3 linked regions of the Homo sapiens genome follow. The protein of the gene in region 1 purifies or fractionates together with the protein of each later gene. This does not show direct contact. Each region holds a gene or a part of one and is shown on either strand. Other genes may lie near its edges.

Region 1 (6,637 bases):
GTTAGAAAGGCACGTATGTGATGCATATCTCCTGGGAGATCTGTATCTAAAATGAGACTAGAAATCACATTCTCTTGTATAAATCAACTTTGACAAGCCCCAAACTGGGAATATATCTGTAATTAATAAATGAAAATTACAAAGCTCATTTCCTGCGCTTACTTCCACCCACCCTACCCACTCTTGTGGGGCTACACCTGACACTTATTAGGCTTTTGAAAAAAGGAGACTTAAAATAAAGAGAATCTATCACTCAACGGTTTGTCAAGGCATGAGCTTTTTTAGTAGGTTCACAGAACAAAATGTGTAAATGGTAAGTTCCTTGAAGGATTTCTTTGACATAAGAAATAGCACAAAGTGAGCATGTACTGCTTGGTTCTATTCAGTTAAAAATATAGGGGTGGCTTTGGTCTCTAATCTGGAGAAACTGCTCATCTACCAAAAGCTATTCAGGGCATGGCCAAGGCTGATATCTTGCATCTAGGGCCTTCTTGTTTTGACAAATGCTGTATTTATCTCATTACTCAAGGTTCACAGTGGTTTTTGGTTTTAAGATGGACTAGTCTGGCAGAATAAATTCCATTAAATGAGAGAGTTAGGCAGATGGTTTCTGAATTGTGAATTTTATATCAGCAAATATAAAAAGGGATTGCTCCAAAGAAGTTCCAGACTATTGGAATTGTAAAAGCACCCAATCAGCTCTCTATAAACAGGTTACTGTTATTTTTCACCAATGAGAATTTTTTTTAATGTACTACTAAAAATTAGGCTTTGGGTTCCCTTGACTAGCCAAATTCGACCAGTAATAGACACCATTTCTTCAGAAGGGGTGTCTTTATCTAATGCTATTTTGCCTGGCTATTGTCAAGAAGGTCAGAGAAACCTGTCCAGGGTAGTGATGTTTGAGGTAGGTATTGAAGAGCTCAGGAAAACCATGAAGACAAGGAAGGATTATTGTCAGAGGGCTGTACTAGTAATTCTCAAAATGTTGTCCCTGCACCCAGCAGCACCAACATTGCCTGGGAACTTGTTAAACATGAGAATTTTCAGCCCCACTTCAGACTTACTGAATCAACAACTCTGGCATGGAGCCTAGTAGCCTGTGTTTTAACAAGCCCTGCAGTTGATTTTCACATATCTTAATATTGAGAACCACCGGACTAGCAATTTGAAATTTGAAAGAAAATGGTGTGTTTGAAGGGCTGCAATTTCTTCCACATGGCTCAATTTTAGATTAAGTATGGATAGTGGGAAATCTTGAGGATGACAAAGCAGGCAAGATGATGATGTGCCTTAAGTCTTCATATGGAATTTATACCATATCATTAGGATGATGAGGAGCTAACAAATGCTTAAAAGCAGTGAATTAATAAGGAAGAACCTGTTAAAATAACTCTAGGAGCAGTGTGAGAAATAGACTAAGTCCCTGACTGGATGAGGTTGCAAAAAAAAAAAAAAAAAGAAAAAAGAAAACAAGCTCATAATTGGTTGGGAGATTAAATGATATCATGGTTATGGAAGACTTCTAGAGACTGGGAAAGGACTACCTAAGTTAGGATGGGCTGAAAGGGGAAGAACACAAAGATCTGTGTCAGGATTTTAAAGATGAGTAAATGTTGAAGTTACTAAAAGCAATTAAAAATAACAAAGACCTGCCATTTTCAGTAAGAAAATAACAGAATCAGTTTTGGATTTGTTAACTTTTTAGTTCCTGCAGGTGACTACAAGTTTAGGACTCATAATTCTGGTTATCAACAATCTATCTAGCCAGCTTTATATAAAATTAAACTGTAGGAACAAATGCAATATACTAGGGAAACTATATAAAAGAGAAAAGAACTGAAAAAAAGTCCTGAAATTGCTATGAAAACCTGTATGAACATGTTGGAGAGAAAGAGGGAGTAAAAGGAAACTTTTCTCTCTGATTTTGGCACTATTATCATGGATCTGCTCATCCATTGTCTGTCTAAAACATTACTAGCTAAGATGAAAACCCTATGGCTAGCCTGGAGGGTCTAGAGTTTTCATAATTTTGAGAGAGACCCAGCTTTTTCAAAGGTAACGGTTAAAAAAACAAAGCAAAACAAACTATTATGTGGGCTCAGTGGCTCAAGCCTATATTTCTATCACTTTGGGAGGGTGAGAAGGGAGACTCCCTTGAGGTCAGGAGTTTGAGACCAGTCTCTGTGCAACACAGCGAGACCTCATCCCTAGCAAAAAAAAAAAAAAGAAAAAAAAAAAAAAGAAAGAAACAAAGAAAGAAAATAGCAAAGCATCCTGACACATGCCTGTAATTCCAGCTACTCAGGAAGCTGAGATGGTAGGATGGCTTTAACCTAGGAGTATGAGGTGGCAGTGAGCTATGATCAGGCCACTGTACTCCAACTTGAATGACAGAGTGCTAATGACAAATACAGTGTATTAAGAATATCTACATCATGGCCTTGAAACCAAGAAAGAACAACTGATTTAAAGCACAACTTTAAGTATTGATAATTTGGGGAAATAAAACATGATATTTTTTAGAAGACAATTGCCTAAAGCCCTTTCTCCTCTCCCTCCACCTGCATACAACCTCCTCTTGAAATGAGCACTGCTTACTTATCTAATTTATCCAGTATCCTCCTTCCACCTTCTTTTCAAAATCTAAGCTTTACTAGACTGACTGAACAGAAAAGTTAGTTTATAGTAGAATTTATTTCTATAGAGGCCCTTATTCCTAGGGAAGGTTGTAACTTGCTACTTCATGTTACTTTGGAGCTATAATTATGATAAAATTCAACAGTCCAAAAGACAACATGCACGGGTGTTGCTAGTGAGCTGAACGTAAGGCATCACCCTTACTCTGAGCTTGGCCTGTCTAAAAGTCAATGTCATTTATTTTATAAGCTAATTCTTATGCATGAAAATATTGCAATCTTGGCAAAATATATTTTTGCATCCGATGGTCTTAGCTGCCTTCCAGCCTTGCTTAACAACTTCTAAAGGACACACACAAGTACTGCAGGGGTGGGGGGAGTATAAGATTAATTATCTCTTTCCACACAATGCCTTTTCTTTCTCTCCCAATTATGGATAATGAGGCCAGAAGTGTAATTACTGAAGGAGTTTGGAAAGGTAATTACTGAACTAATCTCAAAAATGGTGGTGACCACAGCACAACAAAACTCACTTTATAGCTGTCAGAGCCACTTGGAATGTGATACACATGTTGTGTTTGCAAACCCAGGTGCTGTACGAAAGGTAGTTTCATATTAGCAAATTACCACAACGACCTGCTACATTCTACTCATTTTGATTTTGTAATGAGAAAGCCGATTAAACTGTAATAACTTTAAGTTGTGACTCTTAAACAAGTTACACGTTTTGAAGGAGGTGAAAAAACAAAGATGGCGGGTTTGAGGAGCCTTTCTGGGATCCTGTTGAATATCGAGTCCTGAGATTTGCAAATAGCTCTACCTTCATCTATTCCCACTGATCACTGGAGAGTTAAAGTTTAAGGAAACTTCATAGCAATTCTCAAATTAAAGCACTGAGCTTTGAGACTGCCAGCCAAGGCCTCCTTTTATGCTTAGGCATAAATGTACACGGGACATATAAATTAAATTTCAACGCCATGGTTCCCGTTGCTTCTCTGTTACCTGTTCTTTCTCGCCATGATCCGGAGAGCACGCCACATCCTCCTCCAACCCCTTCACCCTCACTGGCAGAGAACAATCTCTCCATCCCTTTGTGCTCCCGTACCATTCACTCCTAAGCCCTAGGTTCTGCCGCCTCATCTCATCCCTTTGTGACGTAGTGGCCCCAGTCCGGGCCCCGGCGCGCTAGGCTCACAAAGGCAGGCACAGACTGCAACCCTGCTCAGTGCTCCGGGCGCTTCAGGCTGGCTTGGGTCCTGCTGCTCCAACCCCAAGGGCCCTGGAGCGCTCCCTGATACCTCCATCACTCACCATGGCCAGCCAGTTCTGCCTCCCTGAATCCCCATGTCTCTCGCCCCTGAAACCCTTGAAGCCACATTTCGGAGACATCCAAGAGGGCATCTACGTGGCGATCCAGCGCAGTGACAAGCGGATCCACCTCGCTGTGGTCACGGAGATCAACAGAGAAAACTATTGGGTCACGGTAGAGTGGGTGGAGAAAGCAGTCAAAAAAGGCAAGAAGATTGACCTGGAGACCATACTCCTGCTGAATCCAGCTCTGGACTCTGCTGAACACCCCATGCCGCCCCCGCCCTTATCCCCCTTGGCTCTGGCGCCCTCTTCGGCCATCAGGGACCAGCGTACCGCCACGAAATGGGTTGCGATGATCCCCCAGAAAAACCAAACAGCCTCAGGGGACAGCCTGGATGTGAGGGTCCCCAGCAAACCTTGTCTGATGAAGCAGAAAAAGTCTCCCTGCCTCTGGGAAATCCAGAAACTGCAGGAGCAGCGGGAAAAGCGCAGGCGGCTGCAGCAGGAGATCCGAGCTAGACGCGCCCTCGATGTCAATACCAGAAACCCCAACTACGAAATCATGCACATGATCGAAGAGTATCGCAGGCACCTGGACAGCAGCAAGATCTCAGTCCTGGAGCCCCCGCAAGAACATCGCATCTGCGTCTGCGTGAGGAAGCGGCCTCTCAACCAGCGAGAGACAACCTTAAAGGACCTGGATATCATCACCGTCCCCTCGGACAATGTGGTTATGGTGCATGAGTCCAAGCAAAAGGTGGACCTCACTCGCTACCTGCAGAACCAGACCTTCTGCTTCGACCATGCCTTCGATGACAAAGCCTCCAACGAGTTGGTGTACCAGTTCACCGCCCAGCCACTGGTGGAGTCCATCTTCCGCAAGGGCATGGCCACCTGCTTTGCCTATGGGCAGACGGGAAGTGGGAAGACGTACACCATGGGTGGAGACTTTTCAGGAACGGCCCAAGATTGTTCTAAGGGCATTTATGCTCTGGTGGCACAGGATGTCTTTCTCCTGCTCAGAAACTCCACATATGAGAAGCTGGACCTCAAAGTCTATGGGACATTTTTTGAGATTTATGGGGGCAAGGTGTATGATTTGTTGAACTGGAAGAAGAAGCTGCAAGTCCTTGAGGATGGCAATCAGCAAATCCAAGTGGTCGGGCTGCAGGAGAAAGAGGTGTGTTGTGTGGAGGAAGTGCTGAACCTGGTGGAAATAGGGAATAGCTGTCGGACTTCCAGGCAAACACCTGTCAACGCTCACTCATCCAGGAGCCATGCAGTGTTCCAGATCATCCTGAAGTCAGGACGGATAATGCATGGCAAGTTTTCCCTCGTTGATTTAGCTGGGAATGAAAGAGGAGCAGATACAACCAAGGCCAGCCGGAAAAGGCAGCTGGAAGGGGCAGAGATTAACAAGAGTCTTCTAGCCCTCAAAGAATGTATTCTGGCTTTGGGTCAGAACAAGCCTCACACCCCATTCAGAGCCAGCAAACTCACACTGGTGCTCCGGGACTCCTTTATAGGCCAGAACTCCTCCACTTGCATGATTGCTACCATCTCTCCGGGGATGACCTCTTGTGAAAACACTCTCAACACTTTAAGATATGCAAACAGAGTAAAAAAATTAAATGTAGATGTAAGGCCCTACCATCGTGGCCACTATCCGATTGGACATGAGGCACCAAGGATGTTAAAAAGTCACATCGGAAATTCAGAAATGTCCCTTCAGAGGGATGAATTTATTAAAATACCTTATGTACAGAGTGAGGAGCAGAAAGAGATTGAAGAGGTTGAAACATTACCCACTCTGTTAGGGAAGGATACCACAATTTCAGGGAAGGGATCTAGCCAATGGCTGGAAAACATCCAGGAGAGAGCTGGTGGAGTACACCATGATATTGATTTTTGCATTGCCCGGTCTTTGTCCATTTTGGAGCAGAAAATTGATGCTCTGACCGAGATCCAAAAGAAACTGAAATTATTACTAGCTGACCTCCACGTGAAGAGCAAGGTAGAGTGAAGCCAATGGCGAGAGATCAGGTCCGAAATGCTGCATTGCTGCAGTTTCCACCACTCTTATACAGGAAAACTGTCCAAATTATCTAAAGATCCTCCTGAGAAGCTTAAAACATCTTAAAATACACTGATGGGAAACATGCTCTTTCTTCTGCCTCTGTATTTCTGTAGTTTGTTTTCATCCTGCTGAACTATAGTTTTCAACAGGGAATGGTTCCTCCCCACCCCCTACCAGGACATTTGGCGATGTCTGGAAACATTTTTGATTGTCACAACTGGGGGTGATGAGGATACTGGCATACAGTAGTTTGAGGACCAGAAATGCTGCTAAGCATTCTAAAGTGTACAGCAGCAGTCCCCAACCTTTTTGACACCACAGACCGGTTTTGTGGAAGGGAGTTGTTCCGTGGGTGGGGTTGGGGATGAAACTGTTCCACTTCAGATCATCAGGCATTAGTCTCCTAAGGAGCATGCAACAACCTATATCCCTCACATGCACAGTTCACAATAGGGTTCATGCTCCTGTAAGAATCTAATGCTCCTGCTGATCTGACAAGAGGGGGAGCTCAGGCGGTAATGCCCGCTCACTGCCAGCTTGCCTTCTGTTGTGTAGTGTGATTCCCAAAAGACCACAGACCTACCGGTCTGCAGCCCAGGGGTTGGGGACC
Region 2 (7,029 bases), on another chromosome or scaffold:
CTTGGCCAGGCTGGTCTTGAACTCCTGACCTCATGATTCACCTGCCTCGGCCTCCCAAATTCCTATCAAATTTATTCTTTTTGGTTCTCTGGGGGAGATAAGAATGTGCAACTAATAACAGTGTAAGACCTAGAAACTGCTCTGACCCTGACCCTTTACACAAGTGACTTAATTTCATGTTCAATATCCTTGCATGTTAAATGCAGAAAAGACAAAGTTATCCTGATAGCCCATTTAATGCTAACATTTATTAATCTACAGATGCTTCCACATGTCAATTCCAACACTTATAATAGACCTTACTGAAAAATAGCCCTTTTCCTCACTGGCATAATCTTTCCATAACAACACTCCAGAGTCACACACTGCTAATCGACTGGAGATGGCACAAATCTTATTGATCATCCTTATTCCTGCACATATATAACATCTTTTGAAATATGGCTAAAACAATTTTTTTCTACCATATTATACCCTTTTCTAATAGTTGTAATAGTTTAAGAATTAATACACAACCTCCCCAAAATCATGCCCATCTTTCAGGATTGTAAAGAATTAAAATATTGAATTCATTTTCTTCCATTATGAAGAAAGAAATCATCAGGTACAAAACCAACAAAAGTATTATCAGCTTGATGTAAAAGCCTTCTATTGAGAAAAGTAAAATAATAAATAAAAGACAATTGATATACTTCAGGTAGATAATAAAAATTTAATAGCAATATCATAAAATAAACACACATATTAAAAAATCAAGTATTTAGTTTCGGATATTAGAAATAATATACATAATAAATTCAACATACTGATAGTGCTGCAAGATAAGATTTTATTTTTCAAATTACATATTATGCCAACCAGCCTGCTTTGGACTCAGAGGTTCAAAAACTTTGCTTTTATTACGAAGAACATCTGGACTGTAGACACCTCTAACGAAACCAGGTTATACTTGGCATATTGTGATTGAAGCTGTGTGATCAACATCTTAATGACCTAACTAAATCCTCTCATAACAGAAAGAAGTTCAACAGGCAAACATTTCCCTCCCTAGGATCCTAGTTACCAAAACTGTCACAGTGTCAAAATAAAAATAATTATTTCCTCCTTTTTAACATCTTATTGTCCTTGAAGCTTATGTATGGAGGAAGTTAAAAACCAAAAGAGCAACTTTAAGCTATATGCTAAGTCAGTGTTAAATCCACAGACTAATTTTTCGATATAGTATTCCTGGTTCTGGTCCTTAAAGAGAAATAAAGGCATTAAACCAACTTTTTATATGTCAAGAAATATAATTTTGCTATTCTTTCATAATCAAATCTTTCAATGATTTCTAAGACTGTTTCTACAGCCTGTGTGCTAGTTCAGGAGACACACTGATTGTAAAAGGACTTGAGAATATAAACTTTAAGGCTAAAAATTTCATCTTCAAAATGTATAGATGTAAACAGAGCCCTTGACAAGGTGATTTAATGTAGAACTGCTGGCCAGAATGAAAACAAGTACTAGACAGAAAAAAGATCATGCTTAAAGACTCCATTGAAAAACCACAGACAGGTCCTTCATGACATAGGTAATTCCTTCAACCTAAAGACATTTGCTGAAACTCAAAGTTACCCTATTGCATAGTAAATCTTCAAAACCATTAAGTCAGGTTCTGGGTCAATGTTTCCTATGCTTTGGTTGGATGATTTAATAAAGTATATATTTTATGAGATTTAACCATGGAATTCAATGAACAAAATAGATAAAATATTAGAATCTTCACTGAAAAATGGCATGTTTCTCCATCTTTTTCATGCAATAAGAAAGTCCATCTTAAATCTGATTTTTTAAATAAATAATTGCTGTATTTCCCACTGAAGCTTGTTATTCTGATAAGCCAAATTCAAATGCTTTCATATAGTTGAGGATTAAAAAACATTTTGAGGATTATTCATCATTATCTGTAGAAAAAAGAAAAAAATTGACTTCATTTCAAATCAAGCTGTATCTACTTTAAAAAAAACCCATTCTTGTTCATGCTAAAGGAGAAGAGCTTTAATGTAGTTTTAAACATACTTTTAAAATTATTTTATCACACATTCCTTGTAAAATATTCAGACAATACAATGAAGAATAAAATGGGAAGCAAAAATCATCTGTAAGTGAAAGACAACCAATGTTAACTTTATATAAATCCTCCCACAATGCTTTCCTATGCATACACAAATATCTTTTAAAAATTACACTAAAATGCAGTTTTGAAACATAGGTTTTCCACTGAAAACACCCTAGTGAATGGAAAGGTGGATACATAAGTGATAATGTAAGATTAGAAAATGCTAATGTTAGAATCTAGGTGGTGGGTGCATGGGTGATCACTGTAAAGTTCTTTCAGATTTTCAATATGATAAAAATTTGACAATAAAATGTTAAAGAATAAATCATGGATATATTCTATGTTGACTTCAATGTCTGCAGAGTATTCTGTTTAATGGATATGACATAACTAACCATTACTATTTATAGACATTTTTGTTATTTTCAATTTTTTTAATTCTAAAGATTATAATCAAGTGAATTAAACAGACTGGTTAACTTAATCTTATATGCAAGCACTATCTTCCACATTCTAGCAAAAGTGATCTTTCATTAAAATCCAAGGGTCATGTCAAATCACTGCACTGCTTAAAACATTTGTTAGCTCCCTGCTGCCTCAAAATGGAATCCACGCTCCTTAACGTGGATTACAAAGCCCTTCATGATCTGGCCTTTTAAATATTTCTCATCTTACCAAATTTCATTCCCCACCTTCCTTAACTGCCCCTATAATTTATGCTTTAGGAACACTGAATTGCTTATAGTTTCCCTACTACATTTTGCATACTTCCATGTATGAGTACTTATTTGCATTAAATTCCCATTTGTCTTTCAGAATCCAACTTTGATGTCCTCTCCCCTAGGAAGACCTATCCTGTCACCATCAATGTAGTTGGATCATTACTTTATAACTTACATACATTTTATTGCTTCCAAGGTAACACTTATCACTGGACTATAATTTACTTACTTTTCAAATAATCAGGAAAGTAATGAACACACATATCCATAATATGTAGAATTAACAAAAGCTAACTTTTGGCCATAGTGGTTTGGATTATTTAAGTAAAACCATATTACAGATGCAGAGTACCCTTTCTCAATCTTACTGCCTTCCTTTCTTCCCCAGGGGCATTTTCAGTACTCTGAAATTGATGTGTATTCTTCCCGCTCATGGTTTTTGCTTTTATTTTTATTACGTACATGCACATCTAAATAAAATTGTTTAGAAACACTACATAAATGGTGTAATATTCTACTTATTCAACTCATCATGTTTGTGGGGCTTATCCATATTGACAGTCGGAATTTAATTCATTCATTTTAGCCGATGTATACAATTTCATTACATAAACGCAGCCCAATATTCCACCTAAAATGAATATGAAGAGAAGGTATGTGTCTCTTTCTTAAGAGTCTATAATGGCCAGGCATAGTGGCTCATGCCTGTAATCCCAGCACTTTGGGAGACCGAGGCAGACAGATCACCTGAGGTCAGGAGTTTGAGACCAGCCTGGCCAACATGGTGAAACCCTGTCTCTACTAAAAATACAAAAATTAGCTGGGTGTGGTGGCACATGCCTGTAATGCCAGCTACTTGGGAGGGTGAGACAGGAGAATTGCTTGAACCTGGGAGGCAGAGGTTGCAGTGAGCCGAGATCATGTCACTGTACTCCAGCCTGGGCGACAGAGCAAGACTCCATCTCAAAAAAAAAAAAAAAAAAAAAAAAAAAAAAAGAAGAATCTATAAACTTGGGCCGCTAATGCTAATACTCAATGTGAGAACATGGTAGCCTCTGCCAGGTTGCCACTGGCCACAGCTGTTATACTCCTCTCCTTGTGGAAGAATTTATTAGGAATACTATCAAATCGCTTACACATTTTATTAGCTCTATTTGACTTCTGACTCTGGATAGTATCTAGCTATGGAAAAAAAAGCATTAACTTTATCAACGGCTGAAGATATTGACGCTTACCAAACCTGCACCATAACAGTATCAGGAGAGTTAAATAGCTGAGGCTGTCTTTTCAGGACTTATATAATTTCCAGTGAAATAAAACAGAAATGTGTTTTTGACAATCTTCTTTTTAACTTGTATCTTAATGACTTGATGTCACTTTCGGGTGAGCGAGATAAAATTTTGCTTACCCCTTCCCTTCTTTACTCTCCCTTTTCCCCAACACAGAAAATAAAAGTGTGTAAGTACCATATGTAGATGACATGGCTTTACCATCTCCTAGATGTGGCCTAAAAGATAGCTGTCTGGACAACTATCTCTAAGACAGGTAGGCTGGGTGCGGTGGGTCACACCTGTAATCCTAACACTTTGGGAAGCTGAGGTGGGAGGACAGCTTCAGGCCAGGAGTTTGAGATCAACATGGCGAAATGCCATCTCTGCCAAAAAAATACAAAAATGAGTCAGGCATGGTAGCTCACGCCAGTAGTACCAGTTACTCAGGAGGCTGAAGTGGGAGGACTGCTTGAGCCCAGGAGGCGGAGGTTGCAGTGAGTTGAGATCATGCCACTGCACTCCAACCTGGGTGACAGAGCAAGGCCCTGTCTCCATAGAAAAAAAAAAATCCCAACAAAAAACTCCCCAAATCAAAAAGAACAGCTATATATGGGCTCTACTGACTTCCAATAAGAAGGAGTGCAAAACGGTTATTCTGAATCAATGAATATGAAATCTATATCTAGTCATTTCATTTAACTCTCATGATTAACAATACAAAACAGCAAGTCATCCACATAATTCAATATCCATTTTATAACCAGTTTCTTTAGTAGCTATAGTAGCAAGTTACAATATTTTATGGGCTGTACTCAATTTTTTTTTAAGCTACACCTGCTGTAATGGTATGTACTAAGAGTTTTAGAAAAGATTGCCAGGGTAGGCATCTTCAATTGCTTTACATTTTTTCTAGGGTGAAGGAATTACTGTCAGGCTTTATGATACAGAACTCTGGGGTTCTCTTTCCCTTTCCATTTGTGTACTAGAGAAAATCTGATATTGCTTCCTGAGTGGTGTATTAACCTAGCCTGATTCTTGGTCCTTTGCAGGGGAAATGGCCTTCTGTGTAGGCTTATATCCTTTTGAAGCCACTCAGTTGTCAAAAGAGGGTGTCAATTCTACCTTGTGAATAAGTTGATTGTTACAGCTCTCCACTTAAGGGGCAAGGCAAACTAAAAGCTCTCCAGATACTTGTTGAGCAAAACTGAACCCCAAGCACATTGTTGCTGATTACTTATGAAAAGCTCTATTGAAACAATACTTAAGGAGAACCGCCTGGAGGTGGAATAGTCTGAATATGAATAGAATTGGTTTGATACACTCTACAGAATTACTGAAATGGAATCATCCTCTGGCTTCGTGCCATTAACTTACAGCATGACATATGAGAAACAGCCTCATGAAATCTAAATATTGTAAAAATTACTGAGGATACTTTTCATTCCATTATAGCACTGTTTTGTAAAATGAAGTCCAAGGTCTCAATAAAATAAGAAATCCACAAGTACCAGAAAATGTTTACCTTTTATATTTTCATTTTGATAAAATTTTTTAATATTTAGAAAAATACAACATGTTTTACAGTAATAATTCACAACTAACAGAAATTTTCTACCACTAAGACTTGAGTTTTTTTTTTTTTACTGGGGTTTATAGACCCTTGGATTCTCATGCCTGAAAAAAATACTTTTTGCTCCTTAAAGGGATCCACATGTTATTCAAGTTTGAGGAACACTGTATGATAGTGCCCTCTTTTTAAAGATCATGGGAAAATTGTTCCTTTGGTTTCAATACCAAAAATAGCTGTCCTCTGAGCAACTAAAATGTTTTGTCTCATGAATACTGTGACTCATGTAATTAATTAGGTTTTCTGCTTTGTGAGAAAGACCAGCACCAAATTTGTTTCCTGTTTTTAGAAAATGTGGAAACCTTTTGAACATGAAGTTTGTATTCTTCATTCCTGGCTTCATGTTATACTGCTTGTGCTCATTTGTCCAATTTGTTGACTTCCCCAAACTTTTTTTTAAAACTTAATTTTCTCTCTTACTATATACATATATATATTTCAATGCAATCTTAGACTTTTTTGTATGAATATGCAAACACATTTTGTATGGAATACAAATACATTTTATAAACATTTTTATTGCTAAAATTAAGCATCAACATTTAAAACCCTCAATTTTAGTCTATGAATTTAACATTTAAAGTAATAAAATTAATGTTTGGGCAAATAATCTAGAAATAAATTCTTGTTCAAAATTTTACATATTGCTTTTTGTGTCTACAAGTTTTGCCAGGTGCAGTGGCTCACACCTGTAATCCCAGCACTTTGGGAGGCCAAGGAGGGGTGAATCATTTGAGGTCAGGAGTTCGAGGCCAGCCTGGCCAACATGGTGAGACCCCATCTCTACTAAAAATACAAAAATTGGCCAGGCATGGTAGCACCTGTAGGCCAAGCTACTCAGGAGGCTGAGGCAGGAGAATCACTTGAACCCAGGAGGCAGAGGTTGCAGTGAGCTGAGACTGTGCCACTGCACTCTAGCCTGGACAACAGAGCAAGACTCCATCTCACACACACAAAAAACGTTTAATACCACATCCTTGATAAGAACTATTCTAGGGCCAGGCGCAGTGGCTCACATTTGTAATCCCAGCACTTTGGGAGGCTGAGGTGTGTGGATCATCTGAGATCAGGAGTTCAAGACCAGCCTGGCCAACATGGTGAAACCCTGTCTCTACTAAAAATACAAAAAGTAGTCAGGTGTGGTGGCGCACGCCTATAATCCCAGCTATTTGGGAGGCTGAGGCAGGAGAATCACTTGAGCCCAGGGGGTGGAGGTTGCAATGAGCCGAGATCACGACACTGCACTCCAGCCTGGGCAATAAGACTCTGTCTCAAAAAAAACAAAAAAAAATGAATTATTCTAAGTTATAA
Region 3 (7,165 bases), on another chromosome or scaffold:
AACTGAAGAAAAAAATTTTTAATTTTAATTTTAGTTAACAAATTTAGCTACATGTCACTAGTGGCTACTATCAGCACAGTTTTAGAAAATTCCTGAAGAGACCCCTAGTAATGTACTGTAACATTACCTTTAGAAGCAAAAGGTTACCTCAAGAGACCATTCAAATGGTTGTAGTTATGAAACAATGCCACAATTAACTGAGCAGGTCGCGAGTGACTAGGCAGATGGTTAAAGCAACCAGGAACCAAAAAAGCCCATCTCCAATTGTTCCTCACTTCAGGTCCCATAATGTAACTAGATAATGACAAAACACTCACTTTTCTTTTAATTCTTTCAATATTTTCAAAAAACTCAATTCATTAAACATTTCTGCTTCCTGAAAAAAAGGATAGAAGTTAAGCTGGAATTAAGAAATATTTTTTCAAGTCAGTGACCCAAAAGAAATTTTAAAATTAAGGGACACAATGAAGTAATGTAAAAATGATTTTTAAAAAAATTTTTGGCCAGTTGCAGTGGCTCATGCCTGTAATCCCGCCACTTTGGAAGGCCAAGGTGGGTGGCTTACCTGAGGCCAGGAGTTCAAGACCAGCCTGGCCAACATGGTGAAACCCTGTTTCTACTAAAAATATAAAAATTAGCTGGGCGTGGTAGCACACATCTGTAATCCCAGCTACTCAGGAGGCTGAGGCACGAGAATCGCTGGAACCCACGAGGTGGAAGATGCAGTGAGCCAAGATTGCATCACTGCACTGCAGCCTGGGTAACAGAGCAAGACTCTGACTCAAAAAAAAAAAAAAAAAACACAACAAGTTTGTTTGTTTTTTTAAGAGACAGGGTCTCACTCTGCGGCCCAGGCTAGCCTCCTGCTTCAGTCTCCTGACTAGGTGGTACTACAGGTGCATGCCACCATAGCTGGCTTAAAAATGATTCTTGCAAACACAAGATAATTCACCCAATTTGTTAAATGAAAATTCAAAGATTAATATTTTACCATGTATTTGAATGCCGTCACTGTCAGTTAGAAATCAAAAAGAAAAAGATGCTCAGAAGAGCATAAGCAAAGAAGAATGGAGTATGAGGTACATAAACAAAAATGAGTAGACACACACATGACTATTCCTATCCAGCTGTTAACCAGAGCTCTGCACCTCAAAGGGTCATTACCTCCTATCTTGGTTATTTTAAATGCTAGTTGATTAAACCTCAGTTCCTAATTCAACGACTTTTTGTCCTTATCCCAGTGTCATAAAAGGGAACTTATATCCTCAATTGCAGTGGCTTTTTATCAGAGTCCTCCTCCCCTGGGGAACCTACGAAATCAAACACTGAGATTGGCACTCCACCCTTAGGGAATAAGTGAAGTGTCCAAAGTGATGGTGTTGAATCCCTTACAGGACATTGGTCCACAGCTTCTTTTTCAGTCCTGCAAGCACTGGATCTTTCTTTTAGAATACAAAGAGAGGGAGAGAAAGAAAGAGAGGTAATTGAGAAGTAGTAACACTGTCATGCAGAAACATGAAAATACCTGACCTTAGAAACAGGCCCCAAAAAGCTAATTCTTAACACTCTGCTCAGACGTAAACTGGACCTTTGTTCTCCCATTTGAAGTTTATGAATTGCATTAGAAAAATATTATTTCGTAATTTCATACAGGAGTTAAGAGTGTTCAAATACATAATTAAGTAATATTAAATAGCCCTCGGTGATCAAGCAAGATATCCAACAAGTCGAACGTTTCAGTATGTTCACCTGCAAGGAAAAAAAGAGATGGGGTTCCCACCTTCCCAGTCTCAGTCCCCGCAATTATCCATTCCAGGGCCCCGAAAACCCTGTACCCCGTTCGTTGTGCAATCTTTTTCAAACTCCACCCACTGAGCTCCAGAACAAGTGGAATTGTCCCGTTCTGAAAGAGGTCTCAATTTTCCTGTATCTAGGGAGGGACTGAAAACTCCTTGACGTGAGTCAAGTAAGGCAAGGGGAACAGTCCGGCCTGTTTCCCAGATTAAGAAAGACCCAAGGCCAGGGTCGGGAAGGCATTCAAGTTTCCACTCATCAAATTAAAAAAATAATAAATGAAAGAAAAAAAAGAGGGGAAAAAAGAGGAGGGTGGTAAATAGGACTGGGAGGACCAGCTATCATGCGATATCCCAACTCTGCAGGACCGAGGTCCTCCAGCATCGCCTCCCCATCCATCCCCGGCCCCACGTGCAGCCAAGCCCTCGGAGCCCCGGGGTCTAGGTCCCGGGGGCCGAGCGTCCCGCTCGCACCGGCCCTGCGACACTCACCCGCTCGCCTGCCCGCCCGCGCAGTGGCGGGGAGCGCAGGGGGGCGGGGGAAGGGGGGCCAAGCACACCCCGGCTCCCGCGCGGTTATCTTACTGCGCAACAGCCTAGCCTGAGCAGCCCGGGGGCACCCCGCAGCGCGCCCTGCGCACCTGCCCGACGCCAGGAGGGCGAGCCCACGACCCCAGCGAGCCCCCGGACGGCGGCGCTCAGCGCCGGGAGCACGGTGACGGCGGTGACTGGGAGAAGGAACGCCTGGCGCCCGGATCCCCGCGGTGCTGGCCGCACGTGGCTGTCACACCTGGCGCACCCCCGCCTCGCACCCCTTCTCCCTTAGAACCGCGTGCGCCCCCTGCCCTCCCTCCCGGCTTCCCCGCCGCGCGCCGCCAAACCCCAACCGTCGTCCCTTCCCACCCCATCCATCGCGGTCCCACCCCCCCCCACCTGCTCCCACTGTCGTCACCCCCGGGAGGGAAGAAGACCGGATGTTCGTCCCGTGGCTATAGGTAACCAGGGAGAGAGAAGAGGTGGACCCTGAAAAAGGGAGCCCAAACATCCCCCGGGCCCGACAACAACGAGGGCGTCCCCCTGACTGACCTTCTGCCGCGGGCTGCGTCGCCGTCCGCCCCGTCCGGCCTCAGTCGCCTCTTCGGCGCCGCCGCCTCTTCCCCGCGCTGCCTCCTCTACCCGCGTCGCCATGAGGTGACGGCAGCAGCCAAACAAGCGGCCCGACAAGGGGCACAGAATCTCGCAGGGCCTTTCGCCCCGCCCCCGAGCCCCCACGACCAATCGCCGCATGTGAGACTTCCCACGTGACCGGAGGAGGTTGGCCCCCGAGGGGACGGAGCGAGATGGGGATGGGGAGCATTGAATACTGGGCTGGGCTTCAGCAAGACCGAAGGGCAGATAGAGGCCGTGTGAGTCTGCGCGGATCGGGAATGGGACTCGGGAGTGGACTACAAGTCCCAGCAGGGCGTGCGGCCACAGCTCGCAGGCTCGGATCGGGATTGGGACATAAGGCGGCGTTCTGAAAAGGGGAGAGTGCTGCACCCAGTGTGCTTCGTGTGCATCCTAGTGGGACTTGCGGTTTCTGGGGGCGATGTCTGGCTATAGGAAGGTACTCGTTATGATCTTTCGCGGAAAGTTTAGAAATATCCCCGTGTTTGAGAAGGAGCACGATCGGCGACACATTCTTGTGTTTTTGTTTTTGTTGCCGTTCTTAGGAATTGGGCGCGAATGATTTGGGGATAAGGGAAAATACTTCACGACTTTCAAGACGGAAGGTGTATTGGCTCTTAGAATTTGAAGTTTCGTGCTCGGGCACCTGCCCCGAGCCCTGCCCCTCCACCAGAGTTGTTACCACGGTTTACTTGTCCCGAGCTCCCGCGGGATAGGTGCCGCATTCTATTCACCTTGGTTGAACCGCCCCGGCTTCTGCACACTTACTTGGCACTTCATTCATGTTGAATGTATCCTGCTTTCTCCCACCCCATTTACTCGTTTCATTACCTAAATTTTTTCAACAAACTCGGTTTGCTGAACCGAATTTTTTTTTTTATTGATATGATGTTGGGGGGGAGAGGGGAGATTTCCTCAGGAATATTCCCTATTTCCATCTGATGGAACCAGATCTCCAATGGCCGAGCTTCTGAAAGGCACAGACCATCATGAAATCCTGATATATTGTCTTAAATAATTCATTATGAGGCCGGGCGCGGTGGCTCACGCCTGTAATGCCAACACCTTGGGGGACCGAGGCGGGTGGATCACAAGGTCAGGAGTTCCAGACCAGCCTGGCCAACACAGTGAAACTCCGTCTCTACTAAAAATACAAAAATTAGCCGGGCATGGTGGTGGTGGTGGGCTTTTCTTTTTTCTTTGTTTTTGTTTTCCCAAGACGGAGTCTTGCTGTCACCCAAAGCTGGAGTGCAGTGGCACGATCTCAGCTCACTGCAACCTCCGCCTCCCAGGTTCAAGCAATTCTCCTGCCTCAGCCTCCCGAGTAGCTGGGATTGCAGGCACGTGCCACCACGCTGGGCTAATTTTTGTATTTTTAGTAGAGAGAGGGGTTTCACCATGTTGGCCAGGCTGGTCTTGAACTTCTGACCCCCTGATCTGCCCTCCTCGGCCTCCCAAAGTGCTGGGATTACAGGTGTGAGCAACCGCCCCCAGCCGGTGGTGGGCTTCTGTAATTCCAGCTATTTGGGATCTGAGACAGGAGAATCGCTTGAACCCGGGCAGCAGAGGTTGCAGTGAGCCAAGATCGTGCCATTGAACACTCCAGCCTGGGTGAGGAGAAACTCCATCACACACACACACACAAAAGTAAGTTATTCCTCAAAAAAAAATTTTTTTTTAGAGATGGGGCATTATGTTGCCCAGGCTGGTTTCAAATTTCATGATTTTCTATATTGTTTAAGTATGTATGGAATGAAAAAAATCAATAAAGTTATCTTTATTAAGGAAAGAGGCCGGCCACGGTGGCTCACGCCTGTAACCCCGGCACTTTGGGAGGCCGAGGCGGGCGGATCACCTGAGGTCAGAAGTTCAAGACCAGCCTGACCAACGTGGTGAAACCCGGTCTGTGCTAAAAATAGAATTAGCCAGGCGTGGTGACACGTGCCTGCAATCCCAGCTACTAGGGAGGCTGAGGCAGGAGAATCGCTTGAACCCGGGAGGCGGAGGTTGCAGTAAGCCGGGATCACGCCATTGCACTCTAGCCTGGGCAACAAGAGCGAGACTCCGTCTCAAAAAATAAAAAGAAAAGAAAAGAACTATGCCATTAACCCCAAGCCTTCAGAGAAATGAAAAATATTTAATTGAATTAAATGCATATCTTTTTTTTTTTTTTTTTTTTTGAGACAGAGTTTTGCTCTTGTTGCCCAAGCTGGAGTGCAGTGGCCAATCTCGGCTCACTGCAACCTCTGCCTCCCGGGTTCAAGTGATTCTCCTGCCTCAGCCTCCCAAGTAGCTGGGATTACAGGCGCGCCCCACCACGCCCAGCTAATTTTTCTATTTTTAGTAGAGAGGGGGTTTCACCACGTTCGCCAGAATGGTCTTCATCTCTTGACCTTGTGATCCGTCCACCTCGGCCTCCCAAAGTGCTGGGATTACAGGCCTGAGCCACCGTGCCTGGCCTCTTTTTTTTTTTTTTTTTAATGCAGAGTCTTGCTCTGTCGCCCAGGCTGGAGTGCAGTGGCATGATCTCAGCCCACTGCAATCTGCACCTCCCAGGTTCAAGGAATTCTCGTGTCTCAGCCTCCCTAGTAGCTGGGATTACTGGCGTGCACCACCACACCCGGCTAATTTTTGCATTTTTAGTAGAGATGGGGTTTCGCCATGTTGGCCAGGCTGCTCTCAAACTCCTGGCCACAAGTGCTCTGCCCGACTCGTCCTCTGCCCAACTCGTCCTCCCAAAGTGCTGGGATTACGGGCTTGAGCCGCAATGCCTGGCCTATCCTTTCTTTATGTCCAAGACTTTAAGGGTCATCCAATGTTCTGTTTACATTGATCTCACCTTTGCGCCAGGACTATTGTCTTTTAACTGTGCCTGCAGGCGTGGCTCACACCTGTAATCTCAGCAGTTTAGGAGGCTGAGGCAAGAGCATCGCCTGAGCCCCGGAGTTTGAAACCAGCGTAGGCGACAAAGCGAGACCTCGTCTCTAAATAAATAAAGTTATCAAATAAAAAAGCCGGGCGCTGTGGCTCACGCCTGTAATCCCAGTACTTTGGGAGGCAGAGGAGGGCGGATCACCTGAGGTCAGGGGTTTGAAACCAGCCTGACCAACATGGTGAAACCTCGTCTCTTCTAAAAATACAAAAAAAAAAAAAAAAAATCAGCTGGGCATGGTGGCGTGTGCCTGTAGTCCCAGCTACTCGGGGAGGCTGAGGCAGGAAAATCGTTTGAACCCAGGAGGCAGAGGTTGCAGTGAGCCGAGTTCATGCCACTGCACTCCAGCCTGGGTGACAGAGGGAAACTCTATCTCAAAAAAAAAAAAAAAACAAACACTGTGCCTGCTAGAAGGGTAAAGGCCACCAGAACAATAGCTCCTCATTGGGTACGGGGTGTTCTCTCCAGGCTCCCTAAGGAATGTGAATATAACCTGAATATGGCTCCATTTATTCAGATGTTTATTAAAGTCTTGAGCAAGCAGGCATCAAACAATTCATGTGAACAGTAAGCTCAATGAGGTCCCAACTCTTTGACCTTTGAGATGCTCTGACCACCGTTGTGATGAAATGTAGAGCTCTCAAGGTGGACTCACCACTATTACAGAGGCAGGATTCTGTTGGCCTTATAGCCGATATCAGGAAACTGCAACCCTCAGAGTTTATAGCTGGACACAGGACGGTTTAGAGGTTTAGCCTAGAGTATTATCCTGAAGGAAACAAGCTTCGGACTTGCTAGATTCTTTTTTTTTTTCTTATTAATTGTCTGTATGACAAAGATTTTTTTTTTAAGAAAGATTCTTATACTCTTTTAACGCAAAAGTGAGTAGAGTCTCACATATTTTAAACAATGCATATATCTTGAATATCCCTGATTTCACTAATGTGAGCCCATTCTAATGCTGTTATTTTTATTTTTATTATTTATTTTTGGTGACAGGGTCTCACTCTGTCACCCAGGCTGGATTTCAGTGGTGCCATCACGGCTCACTGCAGCCGCCACCTGCTGGGCTCAGGTGTTCCTCCTGCCTCAGCCTCCCAAGTAGCTGGGACCACAGGTGTGTACCACTACACCTGGCTAATTAAATATATATATATATATATATATATATATATATATATATATATTTGTAGAAATGGTAGGAGGGTGTCTCCCTATGTTGCCCAGGCTGGTCTCAAACTCGTAGGCTCAAGAGATCCTCCCGCTTTGGCCT

The links. Proteins that work in one complex are often made in the same cells at the same time.
Region 2: the proteins of KIF2B (region 1) and NEK1 purify together in Homo sapiens (affinity purification with mass spectrometry; 2 studies listed by BioGRID and IntAct, with this or other methods). This does not show direct contact.
Region 3: the proteins of KIF2B (region 1) and TXLNG purify together in Homo sapiens (affinity purification with mass spectrometry; 2 studies listed by BioGRID and IntAct, with this or other methods). This does not show direct contact.

Annotation. Positions count from the first base shown.
Region 1 is NC_000017.11:53,819,083-53,825,719, forward strand, and holds KIF2B (kinesin-like protein KIF2B), read left to right. Parts: upstream 1-3,844; 5' UTR 3,845-3,951; coding exon 3,952-5,973; 3' UTR 5,974-6,111; downstream 6,112-6,637.
Region 2 is NC_000004.12:169,392,581-169,399,609, forward strand, and holds the end of NEK1 (serine/threonine-protein kinase Nek1), read right to left. Parts: intron 1,944-7,029; coding exon 1,930-1,943; 3' UTR 229-1,929; downstream 1-228. UniProt on the Homo sapiens protein: Phosphorylates serines and threonines, but also appears to possess tyrosine kinase activity. Involved in DNA damage checkpoint control and for proper DNA damage repair.
Region 3 is NC_000023.11:16,782,304-16,789,468, reverse strand, and holds the start of TXLNG (gamma-taxilin), read right to left. Parts: upstream 3,004-7,165; 5' UTR 2,982-3,003; coding exon 2,880-2,981; intron 1-2,879. UniProt on the Homo sapiens protein: May be involved in intracellular vesicle traffic. Inhibits ATF4-mediated transcription, possibly by dimerizing with ATF4 to form inactive dimers that cannot bind DNA. May be involved in regulating bone mass density through an ATF4-dependent pathway.